Linked DNA regions of Homo sapiens: region 1 is linked to region 2. Evidence: fine-mapped expression QTL. A gene starts in region 2. The other region holds a variant in brackets. All regions are shown on one strand. Distances are between the middles of the regions. Region 1 overlaps C7orf57 (chromosome 7 open reading frame 57). Region 2 holds the start of UPP1 (uridine phosphorylase 1).

Region 1 (4,384 bases), 41 kb before region 2:
CTAGTGCCTTTGGATGCCCCTCCTGTGTGCGCTGCCTATATGGGAAGACTGGTTGCTAGTTTAAATACTCACATTAAAAATGACCATCCAACAGGAAACAGAGCATGTTATTATTATTTTAAATGAACATGTTAAATGGTAAATGTTTAGGGGTGTTTAGCTATTTTAAGGGGTCAAAGTGGTAGATGCTATCCTAAAAGAAATAATTATTTTATAAGGTACGTTTTATAAATTCATATTTTAGTATATCTCGTTTTACTAACGTTGAGACCTTGTGATTTCTAAGTGGGCCTCCTGATCCTGGGACGCAGGGCCTGGAGGGGTTGGTGTGTTGTTTAGCAGGCACAGGAGGGAAGGGCCCGTCTGTGTTTTCAAGGAGAATGGGTAGTGCTGATGTCAAGAGAGACGGAAGAGAAGAGAATAAGGGAGGGAGAGAAAGAGAAAGAGAGGGAAAGAAGAGGAAGAGGAAAAGAGAGAAAGAGAGAGAGCAGGAGAGGGAGAGAGAGGGAGAGAGAGAGGAGAAAGGAAAGGAGGGAGACAGTGAGAGAAGGAGGGAGACAGAAGGAGGGAGGGAAAGGGAGAGCCAGCGATGGAGATGGAAGGAAGGGAGGGAGTGGAAATGGCTCTGAGCACCAGGCTGTAACTGGTGTCTGTCCTTGCAGAGTGCGGGCTGTCTCCATGCCGGATTACATGGTTCATGAAGAATTTAACCCCGATCAAGCCAATGGTAGCTATGCATCCAGAAGAGGGCCCTTCGACTTCGACATGAAAACAGTTTGGCAAAGAGAGGCTGAGGAACTTGAAAAGGAGAAAAAAAAGGTGACGGGAGCCCATAAATAGACGGCATCCGCATCCGCTTTGCTTCTGTGGTCTCGAGTAATTAAGTGCTGTGATGTTAGCTGCTGGTGGCGTCTTATGTTGCTCGTGGCATCGGCCACGTGCTCTGTATTTTAAGTTTGGATCTACTAAAAGGCAAGCAGGCACCATACTATGGTCTTTCTTTTTCTTTTTATGAATAATGACTTTAAGAGGTAAGATTTCTTTTTGCTAAATGATTTATAGATAGTTAATGCTTATCTAGAGGAAAACTGGCATAGCACTTCTTATCAGGCCAATATAGAAAAGGAATTTTATATTTAGTCATCCCATTTCTGAATATTTTCATTTATTTAAGTATTAAGAGTTTTCTGGGACACTCTTTGTTGATAATAAAGGAAGAGAAGATGAATTCTCTTCTGTATGAAGTCCTGGTGGTGTATTTGATCACAAAGGAGTGACTGGCTGTGCAGTGAAGCCTTCTCAGAGGATGTGTATTTTAAGAATGCAATGGAGAAAGTTGGAAGCAATCTTGAATTGCCAGCTCTGTTGTTGGGAAGTCTTGACAGGAGGACCTTCTATCCCCTTTCCTTGGTGCTGGAAGGAACAAGAGCCAGGCCTTCAGCTCCACCAAGGGCTCAGTGTTGCCCGGGGCATCAGCACCAGGTCTCAGATTAGTCTCAGTTCTTGCAACTTCAGGGTTTGTGAGTGAAACGGTGAAGTTCATATTACAAATAACAATAGTGTTTGATACTGAGAATAAGAGTGAACACCGTTGTCACCTGATGGGTGATCATTTTGAACAATGAAGAGACTGGATGTGTCTCAGCGTACGTGGAAGTTGTTGTGAACTATTTATGCCTGATTCCTAGGCTGTTGCCTTAGCATCTTGGTTTGAAGGGAAACCCCTCAGTTTATTTTGGGGACTTGAGTAGCTGAACACCAAGTGGAATGTCAACTGGCTGCAATGGGCCACATGCTTTTTCTTTAAGATCTCCATGTCCGGCTGTGATTCAGATTTTGGGTTGTTTCCATGATCCGTGCAAAGGCATTAGACCTTTTATTGTTGTTTTTTTGTTTTTGTTTTTTATTTTATTTTTTTAATTAGAGAGAAGTTCTCGCTCTGTCACCCAGGCTGGAGTGCAGCGGCATTATCATAGTTCACTACACCCTCGAACTCCTGGGCTCAAGGGCTCCTCCTGCCACAGCCTCCCGAGTAGCTAGGTCTACAGGTGCATACTACCGTAGACACTCAGCCAAAATGGACCATGTTAAGAATTAGATTTATCTCTTAGTGTTGCACAAGTGACCAATTACACTGAGCTACAACCTCTAGTGATAAATGAACCTTTGGATATTAACCGTGGCTACAGCTCATTTCTACAGAAATCTTAAAATGCTAAATGCTGTATCACTCTCAAATCAAGTGGGGTTTTTAAGTTAGTACCCATTTACAAAAGGTGTGCTAGGGGCTACACAAAGTTCCTGAAGCCAGCCCTTCACTATGGGGAAGGAGATAGGATGACAAGGGGTGGTGGTTAAAGACACACATGCTGAGTATTTAACAGGTAGAGGGACATGGTGTCGGGTAAGGTGCAGGGGATGAGCACCGCATCGGGATGGGCTCTGATTTCCCTAATAAGACAACACCATCACCGCTTTGGTATGAAGGTCACCTATGAGTGATGATCACATCATGGGCGTGGGCCAGCTGACAAAGCGCTTCCTCAGCTGTGCCCTGGCCTCACACGGGACACATGGTGGACACCTGACAAGACTTAGGGCACATGTATTGCCTGTTGGTTACCAGCATTCA[T/C]GGGGGTCTTGCTCACCTACAGGGTGATCGGGGGATCTTGTTTCTTTTTTTTGAAAAGCCATCTTTTCTTCCTATAATTGTTAGCAATACCTCCGTGGATTTTGTTTGCTTCGTTTTGTTTTTTCCCGTTTTCCCATAGCATGTATTTCTATTTCTTTTAATAAGAAACAATTTAGGTAGAGCGAAACCCACCTTTTATAGAGAACTGCTCCCCAGGTTTTGACTAAGGCGTCCCTTGTGTACCACCACAGCTGTCAAGGAACATATAGCAGTTCTGTTGCCCCCAGCATTTCTACCCCTCTTTATAGTCAGCCTCTCCCCTGCCCCTTGCAAGCCCTGATCTGTTTTCAGTCTTTATAGTTCTTCTGGACAGTGCAGGAACATCGCCATCTTGGACAAGCCTCTCATTCTAAAAGTTCACCTTAAAAAAAACCGCCTAAATCCAAGGGGCATCAGCCTAATGGCTAAGGTCAACACGACCATGAACCATAGGTAACATCTCCAACCAGAAACATTCCAAACTCCTCCCTGACCAGAGACATGGTAGCCCCTAAATAAGCTCTCTCCAGCCAGGAAGATGCCAGGCCCGAGTTAACCCCCCTCCGGGCTGAAAGATGTCTGCACCAAGATAACCTCCCCTCCTCCCAGAGAGATTCCAACCCAGCCATGAACTTCTCCACACACATAAACATTCCAAGCTTCTGATAAGCCCCCTCACCCCAAAACTGATATATACTTTTAGTCTGTAAGAGAAAGTGCTCCTGACCACAATCAGCCAGGAGTGCCTCTCAGGTTTTAACTAAAGAAAACCTGTCTTTGACTGCCACGCCGCATTTCGTGTTTCTTTCCTCTTTCTTTAATTCTTACACTTCCTTTTCCAGAATGTGAAATCAATGGAATCATACGGCATGGCGTCTTTCCTGCTTGGCTTCTCCCATGTGGTGTAATGCATTTACATTATGCATCTACATTACATACGCATGGCCATGCTGTTCTGAGTGTCAGTAGTTCATTTGTTTCTGTTGCTGAGTTTCATTGGCTGATCATGATACAATTTGTTTATCCATTCGTTTGTTGGTGGACATCTGGGTTGTTTCCAGTTCTGGGTGATTATTACAAAAGCGTACAGGTGCTTTTGTGAACATATGTTTTCATCTGGGTGTGGGAAGTTCCTTCAGGACGAGGCTCTTAGTTCATTGTTTTTCCTCCTGAGCAGATGGCATCTTTACTCAAATATAGCAACTGCTTTTGAGTTAGTGATAGTCCCTTTTACATAACTATTTTGTTGAATGAGATTATTGCTGAATTATATTTTATTGTGAGCATTTACAATGACCACATTGAAAGTCCAGCCTATAAGCTTTGTATCTTTGCTACCATTAGTGAGTTTTCTTCTCTAGCTGTTGAATGCTTTCCACTAACTCAAGGTTTTGTGTGTTTCCTCACACAGCTGAGGCTACCGGCCATTGACTCAAAGTATCTGAGCAAAGCAGGCACCCCACTTGGCCCTAAGAATCCTGCAGGAAGTAGACTCTCCTTCCCCCCCGTGTAAGTGCTTGAGCTACGCCCTCACTGTCTGGACTGGGTTTGGGTTTGGCCTTCCGTCTTTCATCCGGTGATGACTGCGCTAGTGACAGCATCCACACAACTTCCCGAAGCCCTGTCTGTGGCCTGGCCTGGCTGTGCCTGTCGCCTCCTCACTGTGGTTTCTGTTCCTTCCTAATGTCATTTTGCCCCTGTTGAACACATCTG
Region 2 (4,384 bases):
GTGCTAAGCAAGGGGTGGATTATTCCTGAGTTTTCCAAGAAAGGGGTGAGTTATTTGGTTATTCCCCCTTCCCTTTTACAAGGGAACCCTTAATCCTAAGGGTTGTAGAGTCAGGAAATATGTCAGCAGGAGTCGACTCAGAGACTCTTCATCTTGAATAGGAGCTGGGTAAAATGAGGCTGAGATCTGCTGGAGTGCATTCCCAGGAGGTTAGGCATCCTTAGTCACAGGATGAAATAGAAGGTTGGCAGGTGGTATCACAAGATACAGGTTACAAAGACCTTGCTGATGAAACAGGATGCAGTAAAGAAGCCAGCCAAAACTGGCCAAAACCTGCCAAAAACCAGCAAGGTGAGGAAAACTACCTCTGGTCTTCCTCATTGCTCATTATTCGCTAATTACAATGCATTCTCATGCTAAACGACACTCCTACCAGCACCATGACAGTTTATAAATACCATGGCAACATTTAGAAGTTACCCTATATGTTCTAAAAGGAAGAATTCCTAGAAAACTCATGAATAATCCACCCTTATTTAGTATATGATCAAGAAATAACCATAAAAATAGCCAACCAGCAGCCCTAGAGGCTGCCCTGCCCATGGAATTGCCATTCTTTTATTCCTTTACTTTCTCAATAAGCTTGCTTCTTTCACTTTACTCTGTGGACTCACCCTGGCCCCGAATTCTTTCTTGCACAAGATCCAAGAACATTCTCTTGGGGTCTGGATTGGGACCCTTTTCCGGTAACAAAACTAAAACTAAGTTGTTAATCTACCTTCAGAGAGAGAGAATAGCAACTTCCTAACCAGGCCAGTTTCAGTCTTCAGTCTGAGGCAGCAAAATAGGGTCTGGAGGCAGGGAACATAAGGCCGATTCACACTTTAGCTATGACAGGAAATAGCCTCTGCGTAGGCCAAGTAAATGACTTTGTAACTTTGCATCATCCCTTTCATTTACATAGTGTGTGCCCCAAGCGGAGGACATTGAAACTCCCCAAAATTCTGGAATGGGGCCTTTGAGCCCCTACGCTCAGGCCCGCTCCCACACTGTGGAGTGTACTTTCATTTACCTTTTTTTTTTGAGATGGCGTCTCACTGTGTCACCAAGGCTGGAATGCAGTGGCATGATCTCAGCTCACTGCAACCTCTGCCACCCAGGTTCAAGTGGTTCTCCTGCCTCAGCCTCCCAAGTAGCTGGAATTACAGGCACCTGCCACTGTGACCGGCTAGGTTTTTTTTTTTGTTTTTTTTTTTTTTTTACTTTTAGTAGAGACGGGGTTTCACCATCTTGGTTAGGCTGGTCTTGAACTCCTGACTTTGTAATCCACCCGCCTCGGCCTCCCAAAGTGCTGGGATTACAGGTGTGAGCCACTGCGCCTGGCCGTACTTTCATTTTCAATAAAACCCTTAATTCCTTCCTTGATTTGTTTGTGTGTTTCACTCTTGTCACCCAGTATGGAGTGCAATGGCGCGATCTCGGCTCACTGCATCCTTCGCTGGGTTCAAGCAATTCTCCTGCCTCGGCCTGCCTAGTACCTGGGATTACAGGCACGCGACACCACGTCCAGCTAATTTTTTGTATTTTTAGTAGTGACGGGGTTTCACCATGTTGGGCAGGCTGGTCTCGAACTCCTGACCTCAGGTGATCCATCCGCCTCGGCCTTCCAAAGTGCTGGGATTACAGGCGTGAGCCACCACTCCCGGCCCAACCCCATGTTTTCTCAGGAACTGGAGTTCCCTTTAGGAAGCAAGTAACAGAGGTGCTGGGCTGCCCGGGCCTCTAGGTCGTCTTCTTTCCCAGGCTCTGTGCTCTCACCAGAGTGCGCGTTCGGGAAGCAGGGAGAGGACCAGGAAAGACGCCTGAGACGGAGAGTGGGCACCGGCCGGGGGCAGGCAGGTCCGGCCCCTGGGGGTCAGAGTGCAGCGCCGGTTTGAGGCAGTTCGGCCACTTAGCTGCGACTCGAAGTGAATGAGTCACTTCCCCTCCTCGGGCGAGCTCCTGGCTTTGCCCCAGCAAGCGGGAACTCCCAGGATCAGGAAGGTCCCAGAGAAACTCCCCAGGGGGGAAGCCGAGGCCGTCCAGAGAGATCCAGGGTACACACAGTGACAGTGCCAGCTCCACATTCCCGACCACCGGGCCAGGGCTGGTTCCACGCTGTCATTTCTCTCCGCTGGCCCCAGCCGCGGGGCCACCGCCAGACAGACAGACCGGGGATCCTGCCTGGCGGCGTGACCTTGGGTTAGTCCTAGAGCCGCTTCTAGCCCGGTTTCCTCCGCCCCAGGTTAGGACCACGTGGGTAAGAAGATTTCCTCTGTAGTAGGGGCTGTTTAATGAGTAACAGAACTGGCTGCTGGTTCTTTACAATTGCCCAGCTGCTCTGCAGAGGCGAGAAGCAATTGCGGGCTGAGCCTCCCGGGACCTTCGCGGGAGGGTGGAGAGGAGGAAGGCGGGGGAGGCGGGGCCAGAGGGGCAGAGGAAGGTGGGGGCGGGCGGGGCTTGTCTGCGGGATGGCCCAGGATGCGGTCAGCTGAGTTCGCCGGCCCAGGGCAGGCGGGGCCCGAGCCTAGCGGTAACCCCCGGGCAGGGCGGGGCCGCTCGCAGACTCCATATGAGATTCACCTCGCAGGTGGTTCCCTCATTCGAGTGCTCCGGCGCACAGACCCGCGCCCCGCCGTCTGCGAGCCTCCCGAGAGCCGTCCCTTCGTCCGGCCCTGGAGCATTGCGTTTGTCGCCGGTGTCGCAGTGCGAGGATGGCGCCGCGGGTGTAGCGGCTCTCTGCGCAGGCCGAGTGGTGAGTCGCCCGCGGCCCGGCTCCCGCCGTTCTCTCTTCCCAGGGGTCTAGCCCGTCCCCTGCCTTGGCCACGTGCCCATTTACCTGTAGGGGCGGTGACGGAGGCTCTGGTGCACCTTGGCTGTGAGCTGCAGAGGAGCAGAGAGCGGCCCGGCGCGGCTGCGCGGGGAGGCGGGCGCGCGGCCGGGAGGTTCTGGGGCTGGTGTGTGCGGAGCGAGGTGGGCGTGGGGGAAGCGCGCGGGCGGGATGTGCTTCCTCGGGTCCACCCCGTGCCTACCTCTCCCACGTCCCGGCGACGGAGCGCGCGGGGCTCTGGGCGGGGAGCCCACCGGGCCGAGGCGCAGCGAGGGTGAAGCCAGAGCCGGCAGGGTCAGGTCCCGCAGGGCGCAGGCGGGCGCTTCTCGCAGCCCAAACCCGGGCGGGGAGTGCGGGAACCCCTAGAACTATGCTGGGAGCCCCAGATAAGAGGAAGGAGATGGTGACTTAAGTGACGAAGTGATGTTTTGTCCCCACCGCCTTTTAAAGGGAGAAGGGGGTAAAATTTCATTTGGAGGATGATTGTTACGCGAGCTTTCAGAGTTCAGATGGCGTCAAGTGGCCATCGAGTCAACATTTAACAAAATGTTACCGCATAAAATATTGTCATCGAGTTATCTGGCAGCTCCGCAGAGAAACTTCACAGGCATATGCGTTATATGACATAATTTGCATGGGGAAGGGGGTCCCTTCACGATTCTTTTATATGGCAACCTGTTCTTGGACCTGGCAGGGCCCAGAGAAGCGAGGAACTCCGCAGCTCGTCGACACGTCTCGTCTCCTGTCCCAATTCAGGGCTTGGTGAGGTGACTCGCGGTCGCGGGTGACTCGCCGGCAGGACACTGCCTGGAACGCCTGGAGCGCCTCCCACTGCAGACGTCTGTCCGCCTCCAGCCGCTCTCCTCTGACGGTCAGTTTCAAAGAAACACAGTCTGGGATCCGGAGTAGAAAGAGGCCGTTTCCCGTGAAGGCCATAGAGGCAGTTTCCAGGCGCCTGGGTGACCTGTCTCTGCACTTCCCTCTCTGCTTCTCCATCCCTGTTTCCTTTCCCCACTGTCCCCTGCCTGGCCTTTCTTTGGCTCATTTTCTGCCTTCCTGGGGTCTTCTGGTTAAAAAGACCATTGGTTCCATTCATTGGCTGTAACCGCGGGTCTTTAAAAAACTTTGTGACTTCCTTGAATAGAAAGAATGTCTTACTCTGGATTTCTACAAGCGCTGCTGAGCCATTCCCAGGGCAGGCCTTTGTCTCTCCCGCCTTTCAGTTTGTTTGCCCATCTGCATTTTGGCCCAAGCTTTCCCCATTTCTCAGCTGCTCTTACATTATTTCTTTTTTCAGAGGCTACCCTGACCTTCTAGTCCTCTGCATTAAACCTCATCACCGCAGACCGTTTTAATTCAGCACAGGTGTATCGAGCACAAATTATATTCTTGGTTCCAATACTTTCAGCACTGGTGGGCATTCATGTTTCATTTAAGAAGGATAAATTAGTGTTTCTTTACATGGGCTTTTTGTCAAAGTGGAATTTTGTTGACTTTACTGATCTTAAAATTAAC

The links. PIP is the estimated chance that this variant, and not a neighbour inherited with it, causes the effect.
Region 1: its variant is the best candidate, but not a certain one, in a credible set for the expression of UPP1 in whole blood (INTERVAL, PIP 0.58).

What each region holds. Positions count from the first base shown.
Region 1 is chr7:48,045,798-48,050,181 of GRCh38, forward strand. It overlaps C7orf57 (chromosome 7 open reading frame 57), which reads left to right. Exons shown (of 9, transcript NM_001100159.3): 5 at 663-819; 6 at 4,083-4,180. Among named protein-coding and RNA genes, the nearest start is that of C7orf57, 12 kb to the left of the region's middle. RefSeq lists enhancers at 2,561-3,760, 3,896-4,384. The variant T/C (reference allele first, on the strand shown) is at 2,633.
Region 2 is chr7:48,086,625-48,091,008 of GRCh38, forward strand. UPP1 (uridine phosphorylase 1) reads left to right here and starts at 2,641. Exons shown (of 9, transcript NM_003364.4): 1 at 2,641-2,794; 2 at 3,564-3,740. RefSeq lists enhancers at 1,644-2,173, 1,986-2,195, 2,706-3,235 and silencers at 2,336-2,675, 3,016-3,205.